Linked DNA regions of Homo sapiens. The protein of the gene in region 2 purifies or fractionates together with the protein of the main gene of each other region. This does not show direct contact. Each region holds a gene or a part of one and is shown on either strand. Other genes may lie near its edges. The genes, in order: ZNF3, LONP1 and ROCK1.

What was found.
Region 1: the proteins of LONP1 (region 2) and ZNF3 purify together in Homo sapiens (co-immunoprecipitation; one large-scale study listed by IntAct). This does not show direct contact.
Region 3: the proteins of LONP1 (region 2) and ROCK1 fractionate together in Homo sapiens (co-fractionation; one large-scale study listed by BioGRID). This does not show direct contact.

The regions. Positions count from the first base shown.
Region 1 is NC_000007.14:100,075,075-100,078,723, reverse strand, and holds part of ZNF3 (zinc finger protein 3), read left to right. Parts: intron 1-1,290; 5' UTR 1,291-1,366; coding exon 1,367-1,421; exon of another isoform or gene 1,422-1,495; intron 1,496-1,501; exon of another isoform or gene 1,502-2,446; intron 2,447-3,093; coding exon 3,094-3,182; exon of another isoform or gene 3,183-3,297; coding exon of another isoform or gene 3,298-3,462; coding exon 3,463-3,589; intron 3,590-3,649. UniProt on the Homo sapiens protein: Involved in cell differentiation and/or proliferation.
Region 2 is NC_000019.10:5,703,025-5,706,673, reverse strand, and holds part of LONP1 (lon protease homolog, mitochondrial isoform 1 precursor), read left to right. Parts: intron 1-681; coding exon 682-902; intron 903-2,455; coding exon of another isoform or gene 2,456-2,558; exon of another isoform or gene 2,559-2,943; intron 2,944-3,649. UniProt on the Homo sapiens protein: ATP-dependent serine protease that mediates the selective degradation of misfolded, unassembled or oxidatively damaged polypeptides as well as certain short-lived regulatory proteins in the mitochondrial matrix.
Region 3 is NC_000018.10:20,947,693-20,951,341, reverse strand, and holds part of ROCK1 (rho-associated protein kinase 1), read left to right. Parts: 3' UTR 1-3,649. UniProt on the Homo sapiens protein: Protein kinase which is a key regulator of the actin cytoskeleton and cell polarity.

The DNA.
Region 1 (3,649 bases), on a different chromosome or scaffold from region 2:
GGGTTGGTTGGTTTGTTTTGTTTTGTTTTGTTTTGTTTGAGACAGAGTCTCACTGTTGCCCAGGCTGGAGTACAATGGTGCGATCTTGGGTCACTGCCACCTCTGCCTCCCGGGTTCAAGCGATTCTCCTGCCTCAGCCTCCCAAGTAGCTGGGATTACAGGCGCATGTAACACCATGCCCAGCTAATTTTTGTATTTTTTCTTTTCTTTTTCTTTTTTTTTTTTTTTGAGGCAGAGTCTCTGTCTATTGCCCAGACTGGAGTGCAGTGGCGTGATCTCGGCTCACTGCAACCTCCACCTCCTGGGATCAAGTGATTCTCCTGCTTCAGCTTCCTGAGTAGCTGGGATTACAGGCACACACCACCATGCCCAGCTAATTTTTTGTATTTTTAGTAGAGATGGGGTTTCATCATCCTGGCCAGGCTGGTCTCGAACTCCTGACCTCGTGATTTGCCTGCCTCAGCCTCCCAAAGTGCTGGGATTACAGGCATGAGCCACCGTGCCCAGCCTGGGAGTAGTCTTTTTATGCCAGTGAATGTATATACCCGCTCCTGCATTTTGTTATAAATATTACTCAAAGTGATGGGGGCAGCCAAAGGCGGGATATTGTTGAGGAACTTGGGCCCTTTTTGTGGTCCTTGTGATAGTCTCATTTCAGGGAGTATATTTACCAGGATCTAAAAGACTAGTCTGAGGCTGGGCATGGTGGCTCACACCTGTAATCCTAGCACTTGGGGAGGCTGGGGTGGGCGGATCACCTGAGATCAGGAGTTTGAGACCAGCCTGGCTGACATGGTGAAATCCCACCTCTACTAAAAATACAAAAATTAGCCAGGCATGGTGGTGCGTGCCTGTAATCCCAGCTACTTGGGAGGCTAAGGCAGGAGAATCGCTTGAACCCGGGAGGCAGAGGTGGCAGTGAGATGAGATTGCGCCATTGCACTCCAGCCTGGGTGACAAGAGTGAAATTCCGTCTTAAAAAAAATAAAGAAAATTTAAAAATACCGGGCGCGGTGGCTCACGCCTGTAATCCCAGCTCTCAGGGAGGCAACAGGTGGGAGGATAGCTTGAGCCCAGGAGTTCCAGACCTGCCTGGGCAATATAGCGAGACCCTGTTCTCCACAAAAAGGAAAAAAAAAATTAAAAAATAAAAGAAAATAAAAGACTAGTCCCAGTTGCCACATTTCTTCTCACTGTTCCTGGGTACTCACTGAAATACTAGCTCCCATCTTTCTGTATTCAGGAGGTTTTTTTGAATTATCTTTGAACCTTGAACTTTTGCTTCTGCAGTGCTTCCTCATTCTCTTTTAAAACCCGCTTCCCGCTGAGTCTGCACCCAGGAGACCAGAGAGCACCTTGCCCTTCCATGGAAACTCAGGCTGATCTCGTATCTCAGGAACCTCAGGCCCTGCTTGACAGTGGTGAGGAATAAGGACTCATTCATTCTTTTACTCAGTCATTCTGCAATCATCCATTGAAATCGCTCACTTACCAGGTACTAGGCTAACTACTAGAATCCAGATGTGAATAAGACACACTCTTCGCCATTCAGTAACTCACAGCCTAGTGGGGAAGCTGACCGAACAGTAATCAATGACAGCTTGATAGGTTTGATAATTGAGGCAGATTGTTTTGTTTTGTTTTGTTTTTTTTGAGATGGAGTCTTGCTCTGTTGCTCAGGCTAGAGTGCAGTGGCACAATCTCGGCTCACTGCAACCTCCGCCTCCTGGGTTCAAGTGATTCTCCTGCCTCAGCCTCCCATGTAGCTGGGACTGCAGGCGCCCGTCACCATGCCCGGCTAATTTTTGTAGAGACGGGGTTTTGCCATGTTGGTCAGGCTGGTCTTAAACTCCTGACCTCAGTGCCCACCTTGGCCTCCCAAAGTGTTGAAATTACAGGCATGACCCACCGCGCCTGGCCACTGAGGCAGTTTTGAGGGGTTGTGAGTACCTCACGCGAGATTAATGAAACCGTGTCAATCATTCCATTTCTCGGGCATTCTATGCAGCCGACTTCATAGGCATAGTTTGTGCTTTTTAGGAGCATGCTTTTAGAGGAGGCGCTTCGGAATCATTTTATGGGTCATAGACAAAAAGACAGAGTGAATAGGAAGCCACTAAAGTATACTTTGCGGCCGAGCGCGGTGGCTCACTTCTGTAATCCCAGCACTTAGGGAGGCTGAGGCGGGCAGATCACAAGGTCAGGAAATTGAGACCATCTTGGCCAACACAGTGAAACCGCATCTCTACTAAAAATACAAAAAATTAGCCGGGCATGGTGGCACGCACCTGTAGTCCCAGCTCCTCCAGAGGCTGAGGCAGGAGAATTGCTTGAACCCGGGAGGTGGAGGTTGCAGTGAGCCGAGATCACGCCACTGCACTCCAGCCTGGGTGACAGAGTGAGACGCCACCTCAAAAAGAAAAAAAAAAAAGAATTGCAGAAAAAGGTAAGAGATTCAACACAGAAACAGGGAACATTTTTAGTGTACAGATTTGATCTGGGGTGGAGAGAAAGGAGCTGTGGGCATTGTGTTTCCAGTCAGGGCTGGGGTGAAGCTGCTGGTTTTTCTCTGGTCTAAGAACTTCATGCTGGGTGCAGTGGCACACGACTGTAATCCCAGCTATTTGGGAGGCTGAGGCAGGAGGATCACTTGAGCCCAGGAGTTTGAGACCAGCCTGGGCAACATAGCAAAACCCACCTCAAAAAAAAAAAAAATAGAACTTCATGCAAGAGCGGGATCATATGTTTCTGGCCAAGCTTGGGTGAATGGACAAGAATGCAGTAATCACTAAGATAGGACTGGGCGGTTTCATTGAGAGAAGAGTGACTGGAGAGAAGAGGGGACCTGGGACAGACTGGAGACTAAGAATGACCAGGCCTGTGGCCATCTGCTCAGGCAGGATGGACTCGCTCTGAGTTTGCCTTTGTTGGACACACTGTAGCTAGCTGCAGAGGAAGCAAACTTAGAAATGTGAGAGAGAGGGTCCTGTGTTGTCCCAGGACCCCGGGAGCTTTCTGTGGGTTGGGAAGTCAGCAGGTTGGGAGGTCACAGAGCAGATGGACTCATTCCTGGGCCCTTTTATTGCCCTTCAGCTCTTCCTTCAAAAGTTCCTGCCTTTTCCGACAAGGACAGCCTGGGGGATGAGATGTTGGCGGCTGCGCTCCTAAAGGCCAAGTCCCAGGTGAGCTGTGGTTCCGTTTATCCTTTTCCTTTCCATTTTCTGTGCAATGACATCCCATTCAGAGCTTTAAACCCTGATCTCCTCCATCAGGCCCATGGTTCTGTCCTGCTGAATCATGGACCCTCACCTTCTATCTTGGACTCCTGTCTCTCTTCCTCCACCCTGTCCTCCCTTCCTCCCTTCCCAAATGTGCATTTTTCACCCCATCCTCAGTGATTTTTTTGGTGCCGCCATTCACATTCCTCACCCTGAAATTGCATGCCAGCACGTGTTGTTTCAGGAGCTGGTAACCTTTGAGGATGTAGCTGTGTACTTCATCCGGAAGGAGTGGAAGCGTTTGGAACCTGCTCAGAGGGACCTCTATAGAGATGTGATGCTGGAGAATTACGGGAATGTGTTCTCACTGGGTAAGGAGTTATGCCTTGTCAACAAAACTCGCTGGTGTTTCTTTGCTTCTTCGTTTGCTA
Region 2 (3,649 bases):
GCAGATCACAGCCTGCCTGATGGCCGGTCACCTCACGGTCGTAGCATTTTTCAGAATTTTTTACTTTAAGACAGGGTCTCAGTCGGCCACCTAGGCTGGAGTGCAATGGCGCAATCTCAGCTCACTACAGCCTCCACCTCCAGGGCTCAAGTGATCCTCCCACCTCAGCCTCCCGAGTAGCTGGGATTACAGGCGTGCAATACCACACCGGCTAATTTTTGTATTTTAGTAGAGACAGGGTTTCACCATGTTGGCCAGGCTGGTCTTGAACTCCTGGCCTCAAGTGATCCGCCCGCTTCAGCCTCCCAAAGTGCTAGGATTACAGGCGTGAGCCACCGCGCCTGGCCCCATCTCTACAAAAAATTTTAAAATTAGAGCCAGGTGTGGCAGGTGCCTGTGGTCCCAGTTACTCAGGAGGCTAAGGCAGGAGGATCGCTTGAGCCCAGGAGGTGGAGGCTACGGTGAGCTATGATGGTGCCTTTGCACTCCAGCCTGGGTAACACAGGTAGACCCTGTCTCAAAAACAAAAGAAGATGGAAGGAACCAAAGGCTTCGTGCTCTGGGTTTCGTTTCTTTTCTCTCTGAGTCCTGGGGGAGCAGAGGGTCCCCCTTCGTCTGGGGACGCACCCACCCACCCAGCTTCCCGGAGCCAGGGCCTGATGGCAGCACCTCACCCCACAGGTGGAGGAGAAGATCAAGCAGACCCACCGTAAGTACCTGCTGCAGGAGCAGCTAAAGATCATCAAGAAGGAGCTGGGCCTGGAGAAGGACGACAAGGATGCCATCGAGGAGAAGTTCCGGGAGCGCCTGAAGGAGCTCGTGGTCCCCAAGCACGTCATGGATGTTGTGGACGAGGAGCTGAGCAAGCTGGGCCTGCTGGACAACCACTCCTCGGAGTTCAAGTGAGTGCCAGGCCCGGGGCGGCCCAGCCCTCAGGTGACCCCTCCTCAGCCCCCATCTTAGGCAGGCCAGGGGACCCAGCGGGGAGCCCCGTGGCACCTTCTTGGTGTGGCAGGTGCGGGCTGGGAGGCATCCAGCGAGTATCAGCCCTGTTCTGGGCAGGACACATCATCACCATCTCCATTCTACAAGGAAATCGAGGCTCGGGGCTGTTGAGCTGGTGGCCAGGGCCTGTGAATTGGCAGGTGGTGCCACGGATTTGAGCCCAGGGACGCCTGGCTCTAAGCCAGGGCTGCTTTTTTTTTTTTTTTTTTTTGAAATGGAGTCTCGCTCAGTTGTCCAGACTGGAGTGCAGTGGCACAATCTTGGCTCACTGCAACTTCCGCTTTGCGGGTTCAAGCAATTCTCCTGCTTCAGTCCCCCAAGTATCTGGGACTATAGGCATGCACCACCACGCCTGGTTAATTTTTTGTATTTTTAGGAGACATGGGGTTTCACCATGTTGTTCAGGCTGGTCTCGAACTCCTGACCTCAAATGATCCGGCTGCCTTGACCTGCCAAAGTGCTAGGATTACAGGCGCGAGCCACCATGCCTGGCTTTTTTTTTTTTTTAAGACAGAGTCTTGCTCTGTTGTCCAGGCTGGAGTACAGTGGTGCAATGTTGGTTCACTGCAACCTCCACCTCCCAGGTTGAAACGATTCTACTGCCTCAACTTCCTGAGTAGCTGGGATTACAGGCATGTGCCACCACACCCAGCTAATTTTTAGTATTTTTAGTAGAGATGGGGTTTTGCCATGTTGGCCAGGTTGGTCTCAAACTCCTGACCTCAAGGGATCCGCCCACCTTGCCCTCCCAAAGTGCTGGGATTACAGGCATGAGCCACCACGCCTGGCCTAAGCCAGGCCTTCTCGCCAGGACCAGGAGTCCCCATGGCTGTCTTTGCAAGGCTACCCCTGGCTTCTGTTGCCCCTTCGAGAGTCAGCCAGGAAGTGACCATGCCTTCCCGCAGCACTGGCCTTGCCCGGGGGCCACTGTCCTGAGCATGCCATGAGTCAGGGTGGCCGCCCCAGGTTTGAGGGCCTCAGGTACCTCTGAGATCCTTTCAGCCATGCCCATGTCCAGCCAGGACAGAACCCACCTGGCCACTTCCCATGCAGCATGCTCTGTTTTCAGCCCAGGAACCAGTTGTCACGCCAGGGCAGCTTCTAGGCAGAAGTCCCCGGGGCAGGGCTGGGCAGGCCGTAGGACAGCGCTTAGAGGGAAGGCATGAGTTTCTTTCCTGGCTGCTGGCCCAGGACCCCGCCTCAGATTTGAATGTCACGGTCGCCGGAGTCTCTCCCCCAGGGCCCTGAGAGGCACTGGTTGCGCGCGAAGGCTGTGGCTTCCCCTCCCAGCACGCCCCGATTTCGGTGAGTGGCCTGTGAGCTCCCATGGCTGCTCCGACGGTGCCACAACTTAGTGCCTTACACAATGCCGAGCCCTGAGATCCCGCTGTGGGCCGGGCCCGTCCCTCCCAGAGGCTCCAGAGGAGAATCCGTTTCCTGCCTTTCCCAGTATCTGGAGGCGCCCGCATCCCTCGGCTCGGGGCCCCTTCCTCCTTCACAGCCACAGCGCAGCCTCTTCCAGTCAGTCTCTCACCTCCCACCGCCTGTCGTGAGGACCTGGTGAGGAACCTGGGCCCCCTGGGTCACCCAGAATGCTCTCCTGTCTCGGGGACCTTCACTCAGCCCCATCTGCAGTTCCCTGCTGCCATGTGAGAGGCCTGTGCCGCCGCCTCCTGTGGGGGGAGAACGTAGATGTTTTCGGGGTTCTTCTGTCTCCCAGCGAGTGCCTCAGCTGCCCTTGGGCTGGTGGAAGTACCTGCTCAGACCGGGCCTTGTCCTGCAGAAGCAGATAGCTCCTTCCCCCAGGAGCTGAGGGGGTCTGTAAGGCGGGTTCTGTCCTCAGGTCCTGGGAAGTCACGGGGGACAAGCCCTCAGTACCTGCGTGTCACCAAGATGCCTGCAGCAGGCTGCCAGCTACCTCTCCCACCCAGAATGCTCTCCGCAAAGTGTCACTGCCTGTGTCACTTCCACAGTGACTTCATGTGTCTCTAAACTCCAGCATCCGTGTGGCCCAGCTGGCCTGTCCCGGTGCGTCTCGTATGCCCGTTGGGTGGCAGTGCGCCCTGACGGTGTCTGCTCGTGGGGCCGCCTGGCCCTTCCTCGGAAGCCGTCCTCCTCTTCATCCTCTTCCCCAATCCTGCCGTGTGCTCTTGCAGCCCTCACTGACTTGCTCCTGGCCCATAGTGGCCGCTGCTCACTGCTGCACGGCTCCCAACTTGGGGACCAATATGGAGTTGCCCTCCCAACCTTCAGCGTCACTCTCCCGGCAGGGGACCTGGCCTCCATTTCCCCACCTGCCCTGGGTCAGGCCTTGTCCCATTTTCTAAGCCTCGTCCCCTCTGTGGTTCTGCTCACTCAGCCCTGGGCAGAAGCCAGTGCCGTCTTGGCTCTCCTGATGAGTCAGCAGTGGACCTCCGGCCATCTCCTCCTTCCTGCACTGGGTGCTTTGGACAGGGCAGTTTGTAAATTTTTTTTTTTTTTTTTTTTTGAGATGGAGTCTCACTCTGTTGCCCAGGCTGGAGTGCAGTGGCACGATCTCGGCTCACTGCAAGCTCCGCCTCTCGGGTTCATGCCATTCTCCTGCCTCAGCCTCCCGAGTAGCTGGAACTACAGGTGTCCGCTGCCACGCCCAGCTAATTTTTTT
Region 3 (3,649 bases), on a different chromosome or scaffold from region 2:
TGATAAACCAGGCTTCTTTAACCATGCAGAGCAGACAGGCTGTTTCTTTGACACAAATATCACAGGCTTCAGGGTTAAGATTGCTGTTTTTCTGTCCTTGCTTTGGCACAACACACTGAGGGTTTTTTTTATTGCGGGTTTGCCTACAGGTAGATTAGATTAATTATTACTATGTAATGCAAGTACAGTTGGGGGAAAGCTTAGGTAGATATATTTTTTTTAAAAGGTGCTGCCTTTTTGGATTTATAAGAAAATGCCTGTCAGTCGTGATAGAACAGAGTTTTCCTCATATGAGTAAGAGGAAGGGACTTTCACTTTCAAGTGGAACAGCCATCACTATCAAGATCAGCTCATGGAAGGAGTAAAGAAAATATCTCAAAATGAGACAAACTGAAGTTTTGTTTTTTTTTTAATGACTTAAGTTTTTGTGCTCTTGCAAGACTATACAAAACTATTTTAAGAAAGCAGTGATATCACTTGAACTTCAGTGCCCTCACTGTAGAATTTAAAAGCCTTACTGTTGATTGCCCATGTTGGACTTGATGGAGAAATTAAATATCTTTCATTATGCTTTACAAAATACTGTATATGTTTCAGCAAGTTTGGGGAATGGGAGAGGACAAAAAAAAGTTACATTTAATCTATGCATTTTTGCCAAGCCATATTGAGTTATTTTACTACTAGAGACATTAGGAAACTAACTGTACAAAAGAACCAAGTTTAAAAGCATTTTGTGGGGTACATCATTTCTATAATTGTATAATGTATTTCTTTGTGGTTTTAAATGATAAAGACATTAAGTTAACAAACATATAAGAAATGTATGCACTGTTTGAAATGTAAATTATTCTTAGAACACTTTCAATGGGGGTTGCATTGTCCTTTTAGTGCCTTAATTTGAGATAATTATTTTACTGCCATGAGTAAGTATAGAAATTTCAAAAAATGTATTTTCAAAAAATTATGTGTGTCAGTGAGTTTTTCATTGATAATTGGTTTAATTTAAAATATTTAGAGGTTTGTTGGACTTTCATAAATTGAGTACAATCTTTGCATCAAACTACCTGCTACAATAATGACTTTATAAAACTGCAAAAAATGTAGAAGGTTGCACCAACATAAAAAGGAAATATGGCAATACATCCATGATGTTTTCCAGTTAACATAGGAATTACCAGATAAATACTGTTAAACTCTTGTCCAGTAACAAGAGTTGATTCATATGGACAGTATGATTTATTGTTTATTTTTTTAACCAAATACCTCCTCAGTAATTTATAATGGCTTTGCAGTAATGTGTATCAGATAAGAAGCACTGGAAAACCGATCGTCTCTAGGATGATATGCATGTTTCAAGTGGTATTGAAAGCCGCACTGATGGATATGTAATAATAAACATATCTGTTATTAATATACTAATGACTCTGTGCTCATTTAATGAGAAATAAAAGTAATTTATGGATGGGTATCTTTAATTTTTACTGCAATGTGTTTTCTCATGGCTGAAATGAATGGAAAACATACTTCAAATTAGTCTCTGATTGTATATAAATGTTTGTGAAATTCCATGGTTAGATTAAAGTGTATTTTTAAAAGATAAAACGTGGTCTTGGGCTCTAAAACAAGAGTGGGAATAGTTCACATGAAAAGCTGGCTAAAGTGTGTTGGAAAACAATTCTCCATGGGTCTCTTGCATTTCTACACATCAGGGAAGCAGAGGCTCTGACAACCTTTCTTTTGACTATCTTTTCCAAGGATATTTATGTAGTAAACAGCCTTGGAAGATAGAGTTCTCCCTTGTGAGGATGTCGGGTTCTTTTACTGTCCAGTATAATAAAGATAACGTCTCCCACCTATGATGCAAACCCACTGTGTGCTCAGCACCCACCTGGGCCACTCTGCATTGCCCACATGGGGCTTGGAGGGCAAAGGGAACTGATGGAACGTGAAACTTATGCTGCTTTTGCTGTGCTGTGAATGAAGTCATCTGACTCTGACCCAGGGGTCTCATCTCTTTTGTCAGGATCCATGAAACTGTGACTGGCAGCATGCAAACAGGATAAAATCTCAGCACAGTTCCTGACGGTGTCCTTACTACCTTCTCAGACTCATCACCATTACCTAATATTTTAAGGTCCAGTTGCAGAGAACAGAGTTAATTCTAATTAGTTTAAGCAAGAGAAGACTTTCCAAATGACATACTAATCTGAACTTAGAATTGTTGAGAACTGAGAGAGCTTTGAGGAATCACTCCCAATGCCACATTACAGAACTGGGTCAACCAGGAGAGCTGCTTCCTCTTCTAAGTTCAGGAAACCACTCACTCCCAAGTATACCAATATTGAGAGGGTCCAGATAGTGCCATAATCAGGAATCCACACTACCACTGCTGGTTCTCTGCAACACTTGTCAGGCTTGCTACAATCTACCTCCAGTTAGATGTTTTGTACCATTCCTCTTGCCACTTAAGAACCTCATGTCTGCACACTGCCTCAGAAAAGGCACTTCCATGACCCTGCTTGCTGGCATTTAGCACAGCCTGCATCTCACGTCTGCCTTCTCTAGGTGCATCTACGTGGCCAAAATTAAATCACATCCAGACCCCTAGCTGCAAGAAAGTCTGAGAAATATAGCCTCTAGCTTTCTCTCTAATTTGTTACAGGAGGACACACTAGGAGTGTGGAATGAAGGTTCAGCATTGAGTTAGCCCATGCACCCACACCTGTAAGCTTCTCTGAGATCAGGAACTCCAGCTTTGGGCAACAAAGAAAACATAGCCACTGTCATTATTCACAGGTTCACTCATGACCTGTCATTTGGGGTTTCAGCTTAAATTAACCCATTCACCCTTCATTTAAAGTAAAAAAAATAAGTAAAAGAACTTAAATGACAAACTCATAGTTACTTGAGTTTGTAATTCATAGTTAACTTTCACAGTTCTATAATCAATCTGGAATTCAGAGTGAGGTAGAGATCAAGCAGTATTTCTCCCATATGGATATTCAGTTGATACTGCAGTATTCATTGAAAATACTTCTTTCCTGCATCGTAATTCAGGTGAACAATCCATTGGTGTTATTTCTGTGTCCTTGCCAATATCACACTTTTAATTACTGTAACTTTATAATAAGATTTTATATCTGTAGTAGAAGTCCAACTTTGTAATCCCTCCCAATTGGCTTGGCTATTCTTGGCCTTTTGCATTTCCATATAATTTTTTATTTTTGTTTTGAAACGAAGTTTCGCTCTTGTTGCCCAGGCTGGAGTGCAGTGGCGCGATCTCGGCTCACTGCAACCTCCGCCTCCCAGGTTCAAGTGATCCTCCTGCCTCAGACTCCCGAGTAGCTGGGATTACAGGTGCCCACCACCATGCCCAGCTAATTTTTGTATTTTTAGTAGAGACAGGGTTTCACCATGTTGGCCAGCCTGGTCTTGAACTCCTGACCTCAGGTGATCCACACCCACCTTGGCCTCCCAAAGTGCTGGGATTACAGGCATGAGCCACCGCGCCTGGTTGCATTCCCATATAAATTTAAAAACAATCTACTGAAAGATGTATACGACCTCCACCAAGAAAATTGTAAGACATTTGGAGAAGTTTAAAAAGACATGAATAAACGGAAATGGTTTTTTTAAATAAACAAATGAT